2 separate regions of the Homo sapiens genome follow, and region 1 is linked to region 2. Evidence: fine-mapped expression QTL. A gene starts in region 2. The other region holds a variant in brackets. All regions are shown on one strand. Distances are from middle to middle. Region 1 overlaps ELMO3 (engulfment and cell motility 3). Region 2 holds the start of RIPOR1 (RHO family interacting cell polarization regulator 1).

The links. PIP is the estimated chance that this variant, and not a neighbour inherited with it, causes the effect. A credible set is the group of variants that fine-mapping cannot tell apart.
Region 1: its variant is the best candidate, but not a certain one, in a credible set for the expression of RIPOR1 in whole blood (INTERVAL, PIP 0.54).

The regions. Positions count from the first base shown.
Region 1 is chr16:67,202,920-67,205,813 of GRCh38, forward strand. It overlaps ELMO3 (engulfment and cell motility 3), which reads left to right. Exons shown (of 20, transcript NM_024712.5): 16 at 1-85; 17 at 200-304; 18 at 408-490; 19 at 578-664; 20 at 746-1,085. The coding sequence ends at 958. Among named protein-coding and RNA genes, the nearest start is that of MIR328, 2.0 kb to the left of the region's middle. The variant G/C (reference allele first, on the strand shown) is at 1,400.
Region 2 is chr16:67,527,494-67,530,387 of GRCh38, forward strand. RIPOR1 (RHO family interacting cell polarization regulator 1) reads left to right here and starts at 1,336. Exons shown (of 22, transcript NM_024519.4): 1 at 1,336-1,421. LOC100505942 (a long non-coding RNA gene) reads right to left here and starts at 1,252. Exons shown (of 2, transcript NR_104656.1): 1 at 824-1,252. RefSeq lists silencers at 1,293-1,402, 1,433-1,662, 2,663-2,894.

The sequences.
Region 1 (2,894 bases), 320 kb before region 2:
CTCATGGGCCTGATCCGCCAGCAGCGCTTGCTCCGCCTCTGTGAGGGGACGCTCTTCCGCAAGATCAGCAGCCGGCGGCGCCAGGGTCTCTGAATGGGCATGGGCAGGGGGCAGAGGGCAGGCAGAGGGCAGGCAGAGGGCGGCTGGCTTGGTGTCAGGACCTCTCAGCACTCTGGCCCTCTTCCCTTTCTCCACGCAGATAAGCTGTGGTTCTGCTGCCTGTCCCCCAACCACAAGCTGCTGCAGTACGGAGACATGGAGGAGGGCGCCAGCCCGCCTACCCTGGAGAGTCTGCCCGAGCAACGTAAGGCGGGCAGGGGCGGGGGCCAGATACCTGCTCTCCCCAGACCGCCCTGGGCCCCGGGGCTGCCAGGGCTGCAGTGCTCAGCCCAGCCTTCTTCCTGCAGTCCCTGTGGCCGACATGAGGGCACTCCTGACAGGCAAGGACTGCCCCCATGTCCGGGAGAAGGGCTCCGGGAAGCAGAACAAGGTGAGTACAGCGGGCCAGGGGCTCCTTCCCACCCGCCCCCGCCTACCCTGTCCCCTGCTCAGTGTCCCCGCTCCCTTGCTTCCCCAGGACCTCTATGAGTTGGCCTTCTCAATCAGCTATGACCGTGGGGAGGAGGAAGCGTACCTCAACTTCATTGCCCCCTCCAAGCGGGAGGTGAGTGTCCGCCAGGCTGAGGTCGGCAGGTGGGCAGGGGAGGCAGATGGGCAGACCCTCACGGCTCTGTGCCACCCCCAGTTCTACCTGTGGACAGATGGGCTCAGTGCCTTGCTGGGCAGTCCCATGGGCAGCGAGCAGACACGGCTGGACCTGGAGCAGCTGCTGACCATGGAGACCAAGCTGCGTCTGCTGGAGCTGGAGAACGTGCCCATCCCCGAGCGGCCACCCCCTGTGCCCCCACCCCCCACCAACTTCAACTTCTGCTATGACTGCAGCATCGCTGAACCTTGACAGTGTGGCTGGCCATGGGCCACAGCTGCGGCCACTGCAGCAGCCATGAAGGGCAGTGGGTAGAGGAGTGCAGGCACCCTGACCAGCAGAGATTGCTGCAGAAATAAAGTCTGCTTGGCTCTTGGGATATGTTGAGCCAGCTCTGTACCTTGCGGGCTGAGCCTGTGACAGTGACAGTCTTCCCCTTCTGCCTTCAAACTTAGCTGGTGGATAAGATGGGGCATCAGGCCAGGCCACAAACTTTGACAGCTACGGTTGAGGGGCTGGTGTTCTGAAGGGGGTGGGGAGAGGCTGGGACTGCAGCCTTTCTCCAAGGTGAGTCCTCAGCCTCCCTCCATGCTGGGCCTGCAGGGAGGGTTGGCCTGTGGTCTGGGGGCACCTGCCAAGGGAGAGGCTGAGCTGCCGGCCTGCTGCAGGAGAACTGGCAGGGTAGGAGGCACT[G/C]CCCCAAATGGATGCCTTCCTGGACAGCGTTAACAGGGGCGTAGTCTGGGAGCCATCTCCAGAAGGCTCCTGACAATCTGACCTCAGTCCTCAAGCTTGCATGGCCCTGCCTGGTGTCCTTTGTAGGACTTGGAGTTCTCTGGTGAGAGGCATGAAGGGAGAGAGGCAGAAGGGCAGGGTCAGGATCCCCAGGCTGGTAGGAGGATGTGGGCTGATTCCAACAAGAGCCACTTCTGTGCAGGAAGACCCGGTTTCTGATTAAAACCTAACTCAGGGCCGGGCTTGGCTCACGCCTGTAATCCCAGCACTGTGGGAGGCTGAGGCAGTCCGATCACCTGAGGTCAGGAGTTCAAGACCAGCCTGGGCAATATGGTGAAACCCCGTCTCTACTAAAAATATAACAATTAGCTGGGTGTGGTCGAGCACACCTGTAATCCCAGCTATTCGGGAGGCTGAGGCAGGAGAATCGCTTGAACCCGGGAGGCGGAGGTTGCACCGAGCTGAGATTGCACCACTGCACTCCAGCCTGAGCGACAGAATGAGACTCCATCTCAAAAAACAAATTAAAAATCTAACTCAGAACCATGGGTAGGGTGGGGGCCATAGACAGGCCAGAGCCCCTGGGGGCAGAAGCATCGAGGAGTATTGGGCCCAGCTGGAGGTTTGGTCACAGGGGCAGAGGCTGTGATCACAGACCCCAAGCCCGTGAGGAAAGAAGAGCCTATAAGTCTGTGGAGCTCACAGGATAGGCTGAAGCCACTGCCCCTCAGACTTCCCCCTGCCATTCACCTCTTCTCTCACCAGTGCTACCTCCAATATCTTTTTTTTCTTTTTCTTTTTCTTCTTTTTTTTTTTTGAGATGGAGTTTCACTCTTATTGCCCAGGCTGGAGTGCAATGGTGTGATCTTGGCTCACTGCAACCTCTGCCTCCCAGGTTCAAGCAATTCTCCTGCCTTAGCCTCCCAAGTAGCTGGGATTACAGGCATGCGCCACCATGCCTGGCTAAATTTTTTGTATTTAGTAGAGACAGGGTTTCACCATGTTAGTCAGGCTGGTCTCTAACTCCTGACCTCAAGTGATCCACCCACCTCGGCCTCCCAAAGTGCTGGGATTACAGGCATGAGCCACCGCACCTGTCTCCAATACTTTTTTGTTTGTTTTGTTTTTTGTTTGTTTTTTTGAGATGAAGTTTTGCTCTTGTTGCTCAGGCTGGAGTGCAATGGCACCATCTTGGCTCACCATACCCTCTGCCTCCCGGGTTCAAGTGATTCTCCTGCCTTAGCCTCCTGAGTAGCTGGGATTACAGGCATGCGCCACCACGCCCGGCTAATTTTGTATTTTTTGTAGAGAAGGGGTTTCTCCATGTTAGTCAGGCTGGTCTCGAACTCCCAACCTCAGGTGATCTGCCCACCTCGGCCTCCCAAAATGCTGCGATTACAGGCGTGAGCCACCGTGCCTGGCCCCAATACTGTTTTTAACTGTTAACCATCAACCT
Region 2 (2,894 bases):
CCAGTACTTTGGGAGGCCAAGGTGGGAGGATCGCTTGAGCCCAGTTAGAGACCAGTCTGAGCAACATGAAGAAAGCCCATCTCTAAAAAACCGACCAAACAGGCTGGGCGCGGTGGCTCATGCCTGTAATCCCAGCACTTTGGGAGGCCAAGGCGGGCAGATCACGAGGTCAGGAGATCGAGACCATCCTGGCTAACATGGTGAAACCCCATCTCTACCAAAAATACAAAAAATTAGCCGGGCGTGGTGTGGGCGCCTGTAGTCCCAGCTACTCGGGAGGCTGAGGCAGGAGAATGGCATGAACCTGGGAGGTGGAGCTTGCACTGCATTCCAGCCTGGGCGACAGTGACACTCTGTCTCAAAAAAAAAAAAAAAAAACCCGACCAAACAAAACCAAGCAAACAAGCAAAACACACAAAAAAACAGCCCTCAGGACTGGTGGGGGCGGGGTACAGATATTCAGGGACCTCTTACTGTCCCTGAAACCATTCCTGGGTAGGTCTGACATACATGAGGGCTGCGGGAGTGCAAGGCCTGGAGAAGCCTCAGGGGTGTCCAGGTTGGAAGGGCCAGGGGTGTCTGATTGATGGGAGGAGCGGGGGAGTGGAACTGGCCCTTTGACCCCAACATGGGGTCGACTCTCAGCCCCACCTTTACCGACTGTGTGGAGGGCCAGCATTCTAGCCCCGGCTTTGGAAAGGACTGGGTTGCCCAACACATGGCCCTGTACCCGGACCCTGCCAGCGTCCCCACCCCAAGACTGCCCGAAAACCAGTACCCAATGAGTGGGGAATGCATGACCCGGCTATGAGCCTGGACTTACCAGCCAGACAGTGGCAGAAAGGGCGGCCTGCCTCTACAGCGACGCTGAGGCTGGCTGAAATGGCAGGGCTGAAGGGCAGCGTCTGGACCCAGAAGGTGCCAGGCGGCTTCTGGACTCCCCAAGGCCTTCACAACAGCCCTGGATCCTTTCCACCAACCAGCCTAAGCCAGCAGTAGCAGCTCCAGGACCTGTTTCAGGTGGTCACGGACAGGGGGCCCGCAAGGTCTCCAGAGCCCGAGGGATCTGGGGAGGGGACAAGCAGGCGGGGCTCCCTGGCGCTCACCGTTTTAGGGTCTGCGTGAGAAAGCCTCCCTCACATCCCCCAGGGTCTGCCCTCCCTGCAAGCTGGTGGGCTGCGTGGGCCACCGGCCTGCCCCGTTATCCGAGAGGGCGGAGCGAGCCGTGGGCGCCTCTAGGGGTGCGGGAGCCGCGGGAGCGCAGGGGGTGGGGCCCGGCGGGCCAGGGGAGGGGCGGCGGGGCGGCGGGCGGAGGGAGGGGCCGGCGCCTGCGGCGGCGACAGCGGCAGCTGCGGCGCGACCAGGCCGGGCACCTCCGAGCGCAAGGACAGCGCGAGGTCCGCGCAGCCCAGCGCAGCCATGTGAGTGTCCCGCGCCGTTTCCGGGGCTGCAGGCCGGGCGGGGAGCAGGCGCGGAGGTTCTGGTGCCCCCCCGCCGGCGCCGCCCGGTGGGTCCGGGATCTGCGGCTCTGTCCCGCCTCACCCCATCTCCCGGACCCCGGCCGCGCCTTGTCTTTCCTCCCCTCCCCCCGGGCGTGGAGAACGCAGCTTCTCCCACAAAAGCCGCCGCCTCCGGGCCTGCAGAGCCTGGCGCTGCTGCCTTCCTCCCACGGCAAGGCCCTGGCGGCCGGTGCCCCGGGGCGCTGGGATGGGCCAGGCCAGAGAGCGGGCTCAAGGCGCCAGCCTGGGCCCTGGCACGCGCGCTCCCTGGGAGCCCTTGCTGCCTTCGCCGCAGGGGAGGCTGGGCTGGAAATGGGGAGGGGGCGACGAAGGGTGCGGGCCGGCCTAGGAGCTGAGCTAATCCTCCTAGCTCTAGGGGCCGGCCTAAGCGGCTTTGTGGCCGGCCCCGAGGTGACCGAGCCTGGGCTGGAGCCGGGCTCTCCGCCCAAACCTGGCGTAGCCGAAGCCGGAGAGGATCGTCCTTGTCGGGGAACGGAGCTTTTCCCTGGAAATGGAGGTTGGCGCAAGGTTCCTGCAACAGCCGGGCCTGGGCTCTCTGCAGAACTGGTTTGGGCAAGGGGCTGCTCACCAGGGCTAGAGGTCGGATTCAGTCCAGATTCAGCACCCTTTGTCCTCCTCTCCAGGGTGAGCCCTGAGTCCGGCCTCCCCTACAGACCCTCCCCAGCCAGTTCTAACGTGTGTCCAGGCTGGCCGCCCCAGCACCTACTGTGCGCAGCCTCGTGTAACAATACTTGTGCCCTGGCTGCAGTCTGCGGGGCCGCGCCCTGGGCCTGCCGCATTCGGCCAACGCACAGCATCTGAGGAGGGTTATGACCATCTGGCAGATGCAGAAACAGGCCCAGAGAGGTTAGTAGTATTCTCAAGGTCACACAGCTGGTTTGGGAGAAGCGAGGATTAGATCTGAGTCCTTGCCCCTGCGACACCCACCTCCGTGGTATTGGAGGGAGGAGAGGAATGATAATTGGGGGCTGAGGTACAAAATACTCCAGCGGGACAAGGAGGACTGGCATAGCTCCTTCTTCCACCGCCCTCTCCGGCTTGGGTCCTGTGACTGCGGCGGGAGAGAGGAGCAAGGTGAGCCGCCCCAGGGGTCTGGGTTTGGGTGCGGGTGAGGGGAGGACTCAGGACTCTGGGCTGGGTCCCGCTTGAGAGAAGCGGGCGGGGAGGGCGCGGGTGAGTCACGGCGGCCCCTCTGCGTCGCCGCTCGGACTCAGCCCTGGCCAGGCCCGGCCCGGGGGAGGCCGCCTGGCTCCCAGCGCGCGGCCAGGGAATGTAACCAGCTGACCAGGGAGGGGGCCGGCAGGAAGTGAGGCCACCCGACAGCCTCCGCCCGGTTCCGGGGTGGGGGGTCCGGGGCTGTGCCGCTCCCCCTCC